Regions from separate parts of the Homo sapiens genome. Here all the other regions are reported to be linked to region 3. Evidence: microRNA targets listed by miRTarBase, many of them from high-throughput screens and not tested one by one. Region 3 holds a microRNA gene; each other region holds the end of a gene's coding sequence. Distances are from middle to middle.
Evidence for each region. Region 3 holds the annotated microRNA hsa-miR-1277-5p (AAAUAUAUAUAUAUAUGUACGUAU, at 1,523-1,546, opposite strand). A microRNA usually pairs through its seed, bases 2 to 8, with sites in the 3' UTR of a target mRNA and lowers its output. Matches are read on the target gene's strand: a 7mer-m8 pairs with bases 2 to 8, a 7mer-A1 pairs with bases 2 to 7 and ends in A, and an 8mer does both.

Region 1 (3,055 bases), 63 Mb from region 3:
AGACATCACTCCCTTGTAGTAGAGTGATGATGTGCAGTGTGATGAAGAACACTGTGCAGTGATGAGGTACTACTGTCTCACGGGGAAGGTAAACTAATGTGGTAAACCCTAGAGAGGTGTGGTACACAGTTGTGAGACACTGCTGCTGAGGAACACTGTGATGAGGGGCAGTGTGGCCACACACATGCCAGAGAGCTCAGCCTCACCTTCAGCTGCTGCTCCTCATCCCCACCCAGTCTTCCATGACTGCCAACTTCCAGGCCTGTGCTCTTTTCTCTGCATTGTACCTGGGCCTCCCTCCACACACCTGGCTATTTCTCACTGAGCACCTTTCTTAAGCCAGCCCCTGCAGCTGAGTGCTTTTCATATCCTGCTTTGGGGTAAAATACAATACTGATCACACTGTAGTATAGCACTGGGCATTTAATGGCAGCCTGATGGATGAAGGGGTGAGAAAACATTACTGACAAGGTGAATAGAGCAAATAACTGAACTCATCTTCACATTTAACAAATATTTATTAACACAGAAATGAATAAGGCTTGGCCCCCTGTTCTTAGATGCTCAGTGCAGAGGGGCAGACAATCACAAAGCTACAATAAAATCACAGTAGAATAAGTACTATCACCGAGGTATGGACAAAGTACTTTGGAGGCACAGTGAGAGGAATAAAGAGGGGAAGAGAGGAACAATTTTCTCATTTATACCTGCCTAGAGCATTCAGGGAAGACTCCAGAGAAGTCATCTGTGAGTTGGGTCTTGAAGGAGGAGTAAAAGCCACCAGGTGAATAGTCAAAGAAGGAGCCCTGCAGGCTGGGGCTCAGAGATGTAGGTAAGGCCAGGTAAGTAAGGGGTTCAGGGAACTAGGCATGAGTGACAAAAAAAGGAAATAAAGAGGGAATAAAGAATGAGCAGAAGGACTGCAAGCACAAACCCATTGCTCTACTGTGGAAATTAAAGGTCTTGTTTCTCCTTGGAGGGGGAAGAGGGAAAAAGGAAGGTGGGAAGGCCTCAGATATGGGTCCCTGCCACTTCCTCAATCAGGCCATGGGGCTCAAATACCAAAGCCAGAGCTTCACAGCTGTGATCTAACTTCTCTAAGCCACCAAATTATCAAGAGCCCCTTTTCAGAAGCTAAGAATTTGTATGAATAATGCAGTTCTAAATGGGAAAGTCCCTAATGTTTTCATTTTTCTCAGATGAATTGATTCTGCCTAGGAAGTAATTTGACTTCCTTCAGGATATGAGATGGGGCATGGAATCTCAAGAGGGGAAGGTGGGTTAGTTAGTGTTTAGGCCTTGCAGCCATTTCACAATTGGATGGTAAGATAATGATTAAAATGTCTATTTCCTTTTCCAACGTATATTGATATATCAACATAAAGCTCAAAAAAAAAAATATATATATATATATATACTCACACACCGCTGTCGTTATTCCTGTCTCCTCCATTTATTTCTTTCATACCCGTCTGTATTTTAATATGCTTAAATAAAAAAATAGAACTTCTTAAACTTTTAATTTTAATAATTTTTTCTACTTGAATCTTTCACATTTTTTCACTGGTCAATTTTTATGTAACTGTTTTTCTTTTTAAAAGCTTAAATTTTTAAATCTTTATTTAAATATTTAAAGTTTTCATTTAAATCTCTTGAACTTATCTAAGGTTCTTTTTATTTTACAAGTCTCTATTTTCTTCCTGTATTTTTTCAATTTTTGTCTTTAAACACATTTTGTCTTTTTGTCTTGAATTATTCTAAACTTGCCTCTTTTAAAACTTTTCTCTAAAATCTGAATTGCATTCCATTCTGTATTTTTGAAAATTTATTTCTTAATCATTATAGTAGTAATTTTGTTAACACTTTTTAAATACGTATATTTTATGCTTTAATTTTGAAATATCTATTTATATTATTTTCCTTCATTTGAAACTTTTAAGATGTTCCTTTGTTTCTAACTTTAATTTTTAACAGTATTTTCTTCCTTTTTTTGGTAAACTTTCATTTTTAACCTTGTTCCTTAATTTATTTTACATTTTTAAACTTTAAGAATTTAATTTTCTTTGCTTTTAATTTTTAAAATTCTGAAACTTCTTTAAATTAAAAAATTATTTTTAACTTTTAAAATATTTCTTTTAAAAATAACAACTTAAATTTTTTTCAACATTTAAAAGTTTTTTTCTTTTAAAATCTTAAAAATGATTTTTTCCTTTTTAAATGTTTTTCTTTTAAAGCTCTTTAAACTTTATTTTAAAATATTATTTTTCTTTCAAACTATTTAGCTGGTCAGCCACAGCTGGAACACCAATTGTGAAGTTTTTGCTGATAAAGGAATACTCCCTGACTTCACAAGATATTTCTGTAAAAACAAATGACATAGAGTAGCATCAGAACACTTCTACTCCCGTTGTCCCCACCTAAAGCATTCTTTTCATTTCATTATGCTTTATGTGACCATTTTCAACCTCTTCTCCCTCTCCCCATTTCTTAAGGTTGAATGGTCACTGGTTAGTATTCATTTTTTTCTTCCGACAGACCCATGGGCCATGCTAAAATAGGTTCTTTATATCAAGATACTAGCTGTCACATAGGTGTTACTGTCATTGTCCATTCCAAGTAGGTCTGTGTGTCACTTCAAAATCCTTGCCTAATCATTTACTTTTTTTTCAGTAAGTGGTCTGGTAAGACTAGTCTTTCTCTAGACCCTGTTTGTGATAGAACAGTAAATACCCTTCACTGTAGAGTAAGTCCTCAATGGTAGCCTTGGTGATGATGGCATCATCACAGCTGAACCACTGGTCCTTTTGTTGCCGGATGAAGCTGGTATAGTGGCCACTTTCCAAAGTTCCATGGTGATTAATCACTGCAAACAAGGAATACTTATTCTCATTGGGCACACAATCTGTTGGTGGCTGGCCTTCTTTCATTCTGCTCTCTTTAGTAGAGGCCAAAAACGGAGTCATGTCCAGCTCCAAGGGAAAGGAGATAAAGGTATTAATCTTTCGCCTCTGTTTGCCTACATGCTCAAACCGCTTGAGATGAAAACAAGCCACAA
Region 2 (3,055 bases), not on the chromosome of region 3:
AGTCATCTCCACCATGCCTTCCATGCTGCCTGTCTTCTCGGAGGGGGTTTTTGGTTGTAATTCCTTTCATTTTGCTCTGCTCAAATGTCCTTCCTATTTGGTCAGGAGCCCTTGGCCCCCTCTCCACCCTTGGGCTGGGGCCCAAGCCCTCTTGCCAGTCCCTTCTCTCTTCAGGAAATAAACATGGACAAACTCAGAGGTAGGGTAAGGGCAGGGAGTCGTTCAGCGGAGATGCTTACATTCCGGTGAGGTTGGGTAGACGAGGTGCCAGGCCCCATCGTGCCGGGGTGGGAGGGGCGGCTACTTCACCACTGCCCGGACAAGGCACCCAGAGGCCCCTGCAATGGCCGAGTCTCTGCTGCCTCCGTCGCCCAGCCCAACAGTTTCATTTCCCGGGTGGGAGAAGGGAGACAAGGAAAAAAGAGAACGCTGAGGCCTGGAGCTCCATCTGCCTCTCCTCAGAGTGTCCGGCAGAAAGTGGAAGCTGCCCAGGCCAAAGCCCTGCGGTCTCAGGGCTCTCCTCTCTCTCTGCTCCTGCCCAACAAGGGGCAGGGGCCACACTACGGCTGTCAGGCCCCACCCTGATTTCAATGGCTCGTGTCCTTCACTGCAACACTTTGGTTTGAGGAGAGACACAGAAAGAACAAGATTGAGAGAGAAGAGAGGAGAGCAAAGGGAGAGAGAGGAGACAGGAAGGAGGAGAGGAGAGAGGAAGGAGGGGAGGAGAGAGGAAGGAGGGGAGGAGAGAGGTCAGACAAAAGAGAACCGAAAAAGAAATCAAAGGAGGAATCAAACCACCCAAAAGTTGTTAAGTTTTCCTTCATCTGTTCTTTTTGCTTTCTTACTCCTTTTTTTCCTGTCTTTTTTTAAAGCTTTTTCAGTTGATTTGGGAGGGGAGTTTGGGGCTCTTCACCCCTGTCCCTGATACCCTCTCTCAGCCCCGCCCACCCGCTTCCATCTGCCCTGGCCGAGGGACAGGCCCTGCCCCAGCCGCCCCCTCCGGCTTTCCCAAAGACAACGTCCATGAGGTATTTGTGAAGAGAAAGAAGCATCCGTCCTTCCATCCGCCTTGGGGAACAAGGGCCTGGACCACCGGTGCAGGGGCTTGGCTCCGCCTCGCGGTTCCATCTTATTCTTGAAGAGTCCTCATCTTCTTTCCCTTTTATATATATATATATATATATGTTTATATATATATATAAATTTTTTTTCTAGTTTAAATTTATTGTTTGTTTGTTTCTGTTTTTTTGGTTTTCGGTTCAAAACTTTGTTGGCCTCCACAATAGCAGGAGGGCAGGGTGGCTCCCAGTGGTGTCTCTCCTCTGTCCGTCGTCAGTGGAGACGTGTCCGGGGCTGGTCAAACACAGGGTCCAGCCAAGAGTTGTGGAGGTCTTGTGGGAGTGGTGGCCACCACCGCGCCCTCTCAGATGGGGACCACAGGCTGTGGCACTGTCCCCACCACATGGACCCTGATGGGGATGCCATCTCGAGGAACCCCACCACTGGGGTGTGTGCGTGCGTGCATGTGGGGGGAGGGAGAGGCATTCGCCAGTACCAGAGGGGCACAGGGTGGGAAAAGCGAGGTGAGTTCTCTTTTTGGTTTCTGGTTAATGTCAAAGAACGTGAAGGATCCCACGGATAGGCACTGGAATATGAATTTTTTTTTTTTTCAGGGAAACAGACAGGATGGAAAAAGACAACTGAATGCCCTCAACTGAATGTCTTCATCCCCTCTTGCCTGAAATTTCCACCTTCCCATAGGCTGGGGAGGGAGTCAGTTCCAGAGCAGAGGAGGGTGACAGGGTTGAGGAGGGACTTGTGAGAGCTAGAACTTGGCAAAATGGCCTAGCCCACCCTTCAAAGGGGAAAAGAGGGAGGAACAGGGGATGAAAAGTTGTCCGCAGGCCTTCCCTTGAACTCTCCCCTGCTGGGGGGAGGGAGGAGGTTAAAGCAAGACCCCCTGCCCAGGTGGGGAGAGCTGGGGGCCAGGGGAGAAGGGGACACATGGTAGGGACACATTCTGTTGAGCACAATGCTAAAAATTCTGTACATCCTTTGGATGAAGCTACTGAATATTTGGTGTAAGGTTGTTCAGGCCCTTTCTCTTTCACCTTCTGGAAAAGAACATTTGGTGGGTGGTGCTAAGCCCCAGCCCATCTGCCCAGGCTGTGCCCTGTCTTCGCTGGCCCAGGGCTGGGGGCTGGGATTAGGAAGCTGGCATCTTCTCTTTTTCCTTCTGTAGCCCCCACGGGGGAGGCAGGGTTGGGGGTTGGTCCCACAGCCAGGGCTCGGTGGCATGAGGTCTGACCTGCTGGAGGCTTCTCCGCCCCTGGCTGGGGTTTTTATTTGGCGTCGTAGCAGTGAGGGTGAGCACGCTGAGGTCTGGCTCGCGACTGGTTTTTTGGTTTGTTTGATTTTGTGGGTTTTTTTTTTTTTTGGTTTGTTTTTGGTTTTTTTTTGTTTGTTTTTCACCTCTGGTTCCTTTGGGGCAGCTGGTTTCTGTTGTGATTATTTTTGGTTTTCTCTTTTGTTGGTTAGTTTCTTTCCTTTTTTTTTTTTTTTTTGGTTGGTTGTTTTTTTGGTCTTTCCTCCCTTGTCACTCCTGCTCTGAGGACCCTCTGCGTCCCCACCACTGGCCTCCTCGCCCTCTTCCCAGGCAAGGGACCAAGGCAGGGACCAGAGGAATGGGAGGGGAGGCATGGCTGGCCCTCACTCAGGTTTGGACCCTGCCTCGGGCCCCCCTGGACCTCCAGGGGTCTGTGCTGCCGTCTCGCTGCAAGTGGAGGAGGAGGAGGATGAGGATGAAGAGGATGAGGAGGAGAGGCCAGGAGACTTGCTGGAGATGGAGGCTGCCACAGCCGCAGCCGCTGCTGAGACCAGGCCCACACCAGGCGGGGTGCTGAGCAGGGGCAGCCCAGCATGATTCAAGAAGAGCGGCGAGGTCACCAGGCCAGGGCTCCCCGGGGCTGCACCGGCTGCCCCCAGCACCAGATTCCCGCTGCCATCAAGGCTGGTAAGGGGCAGGGTTCCACCAGAGGCCAGGGCTGGCGGGGAG
Region 3 (3,061 bases):
AAATGAATAAAAACACACCATCCTGTCTTTCTCCTTGAGTTTTATCCTGATACTGTAAACTGCCCATTTTCAAAATACTGATCTTGTGCTCAGTCTCTTCTAGTAAACCAACCTTTGAAGCTTCATAGCATCAATTTTTTAAAAGGTATCAGGTACTATCAGAGTAAGGACTTCTTATAACTTCTGATTCCTAAAGACATCAGAATGTTGCTGCACTGAGCTTTTCAATACCCATAACTCCTGGTAGTAACCTCAAGAAGAGTTAGGGCTTATTCTGATAAAAATACAAGAACAAAAAATAAAAGCATTTTACAAAATATTGTCTCAAGGATAAATTACCAATTAGAATATGAAAAGGACTTCTAAAAAGACTGAAATGTCTTCAACCACAAATGTGACAGATTCATGAAACATTTGCTGAACATCAGCCATGTACAGAGCGCTATACTAAAAGAATATAAAAGCTGTTTGAAATATACCATATAAATATGATGTCTGCTATAAACTAATATTGACATTGTATCTTTCCAACCTTTTTAGACACATCTTGTTTCAATTCTTGTACAGGGGACTCATTTCCAACTTTGTATGCAGTGTTCTCTGTTTCCTGTTTGAAAAAGAAAAGAAATAGAGACCAAATGATGACATCTTTTCTTTAAAAATATGCTTTAAAGGGGTACAAATGAGAAAATGTAGCATTAATAAATCAAAGGCCCTTAAAGGGCTTTGATTTCTTCTTCTTCTTTTTTTTTTTTTTTTTTTTTTGAGACAGAGTTTTACTCTGTCACCCAGGCTGGAGTGCAGTGGCACAATCCTGGCTCACTGCAACCTCTGCTTCCCGGGTTCAAGTGATTCTCCTGCCTCAGCCTCCCGAGTAGCTGGGATTATAGGCGCGTGCCACCACACCTGGCTAATTTTTGTAATTTTAGTACAGACAGAGTTTCACCTTGTTGGCCAGGCTGGTCTTGAACTCCTGACCTCAAGTGATCTACCCACCTCAGCCTCCCAAAGTGCTGGGATTATAGGTGTGAGCCACTGTGCCCAGCCTAAAGGGCTTAGATTTCTGAATACTGATAGATGCTCAGAAATTTTATGCCAAATGGGACAATGTAATTTGCATAAGAAAGTTACCCATCAGCAATATTCTATTATTCTGCAATAGGATATTTACCTTTAAATGTGAAAACTTGCTCAACTTTTTAACATTAAAAAACTGTAATGGACGATAAGAACTTCTACGTACTTTTATAGCTAAAAAGGATTAAGGATTTAAGCAAGGGGCTGAATAAAAATTGTTATTTTCCCCAAAGCATTGCTCCATAAATATGCACAAATACAAAAGTTTATAACACAGAAAACCACATTCAGGGAATAGTTTTCTTAAAATTCTACATGCTTTAGATAAAAGAAATCAAGACTTAACCAGAAGTTAAATGAAGCCCCTAAAAAAACTATGAAAAAAGATGAAAAAAATTAAACCCACCAAAAATACATATATATCTACGTATACATTTATATACACATACGTACATATATATATATATTTGGGAGGTTAGAAATGGATACTGCATTTCTGCTGGAAAAAATTAGGGTAAAATAAGACAATCATATATTTGCAAATCTCAATACAATACTCTTCTCAATCTTAAGTTGTCTATTTATAGAAGCACAGCAATTTGAATGCTACTCTTGATACTGAGGAAAAAAAACCATAATTCTTTGTGCACATCACAGAGTTTGTTAGAGGAAGGTCATTATAACCATTTTAGACAGATAAAGGACTCAAGGCACATTAATTATTTAGGTGGCACTTATACAAGTATCAGGATATGATCACAATAGGCTCAATAATGAAATTACTCCAGAGATTATTAAAATGTTAAAGATTTAACGTGCCAGTGAAATTTCTGTAGGACTTGCAATATCTTCGAGCACTGAATTCCTCCCCCAGAATTTGGAGAATACTACCAATCTTACACAGATTCTTCTAGAAAAAAAAAAATGTTTCATGGACTCTTAAGTATTAGATAAAATCCAAACAGTACCAAGGCCCATGAAGGCCTAAACATGACATAGCCTCTGCCTACATTTTTGATATCTTCTACACTCCTCATCTCCCTCTCATATCACTCCCCCACAATTACATTCTGGCCAATAGGATGATTCCTTGCCATTAGGGTCATAGCTCAAGTGCTATTTTATCAGAAAATACTTCCCTGACCATCTCAAAATAGCCTTAGCTGACTCCTTAACTTTCTATCACATTATCCTATTTTTCTTTTTTTTTTTAACTTTAAGTTCAGGGGTACATGTGCAGATTTGTTACACAGGTAAACTTGTGTCATGGGGTTTTGTTGCACAGATTATTTCATCACCCAGGTATTAAGCCTAGTACACATTAGTCATTTTTCCTGATCCTCTCCCTCCTCCCACCCTTCACCCTCTGATAGGCCTCAACATGTGTTGTTCCCCTCTATGGGTTCATGTGTCCACATCATTTAGCTCCCACCTATAAGTGAGAACATGCAGTATTTGGTTTTCTGTTCCTGCATTGATTTGCTAAGGATAATGGCCTCCAGCTCCATCCATGGCCCTGCAAAGGACATGATCTCGTTCTTTTTTATGGCTGCATAGTATTCCATGGTGTATATGTACTACATTTTCTTTATCCAGTCTATCATTGATGGGCATTTAGGTTGATTTCATGTCTTTGCTATTGTGAATAGTGCTGCAATGAACATGTGTGTGCATGTGTCTTTATAATAGAATGATTTATATTCCTTTGGGTATATACCCAGTAATGGGATTGAGGAGAGGATGTCAAACTATCCCTGTTTGCAGACAACATGATCTTATATCTAGATAACCCATAGTCTCAGCCCAAAAGATTCTTAAGCTGATAAACAACTTCAACAAAGTCTCAGGATACAAAATAAATGTGCAAAAATCACTAGCATTATTATACACTAATAACAGCCAAGCAGAGAGCCAAATCAGGAATAAACTCCCATCATTTGCAATTGCCACGAAAAGAAAATACCTATGAATACAGCTAACTAGG

Region 1: miRTarBase lists USP51 as a target of hsa-miR-1277-5p. Seed matches in the 3' UTR shown: 7mer-m8 at 1,398-1,404.
Region 2: the mRNA of POU2F2 is a reported target of hsa-miR-1277-5p. The part of its 3' UTR that is shown has no 7-base or 8-base seed match.

The regions. Positions count from the first base shown.
Region 1 is chrX:55,484,117-55,487,171 of GRCh38, forward strand. USP51 (ubiquitin specific peptidase 51) reads right to left here. Exons shown (of 3, transcript NM_201286.4): 3 at 500-3,055. The coding sequence ends at 2,688. Among named protein-coding and RNA genes, the nearest start is that of USP51, 4.2 kb to the right of the region's middle.
Region 2 is chr19:42,088,548-42,091,602 of GRCh38, forward strand. It overlaps POU2F2 (POU class 2 homeobox 2), which reads right to left. Exons shown (of 15, transcript NM_001394376.1): 15 at 1-3,044. The coding sequence ends at 2,710. Among named protein-coding and RNA genes, the nearest start is that of ZNF574, 14 kb to the left of the region's middle.
Region 3 is chrX:118,384,886-118,387,946 of GRCh38, reverse strand. It overlaps MIR1277 (microRNA 1277), which reads right to left and starts at 1,553; the gene lies at 1,476-1,553. It overlaps WDR44 (WD repeat domain 44), which reads right to left. Exons shown (of 20, transcript NM_019045.5): 3 at 533-607.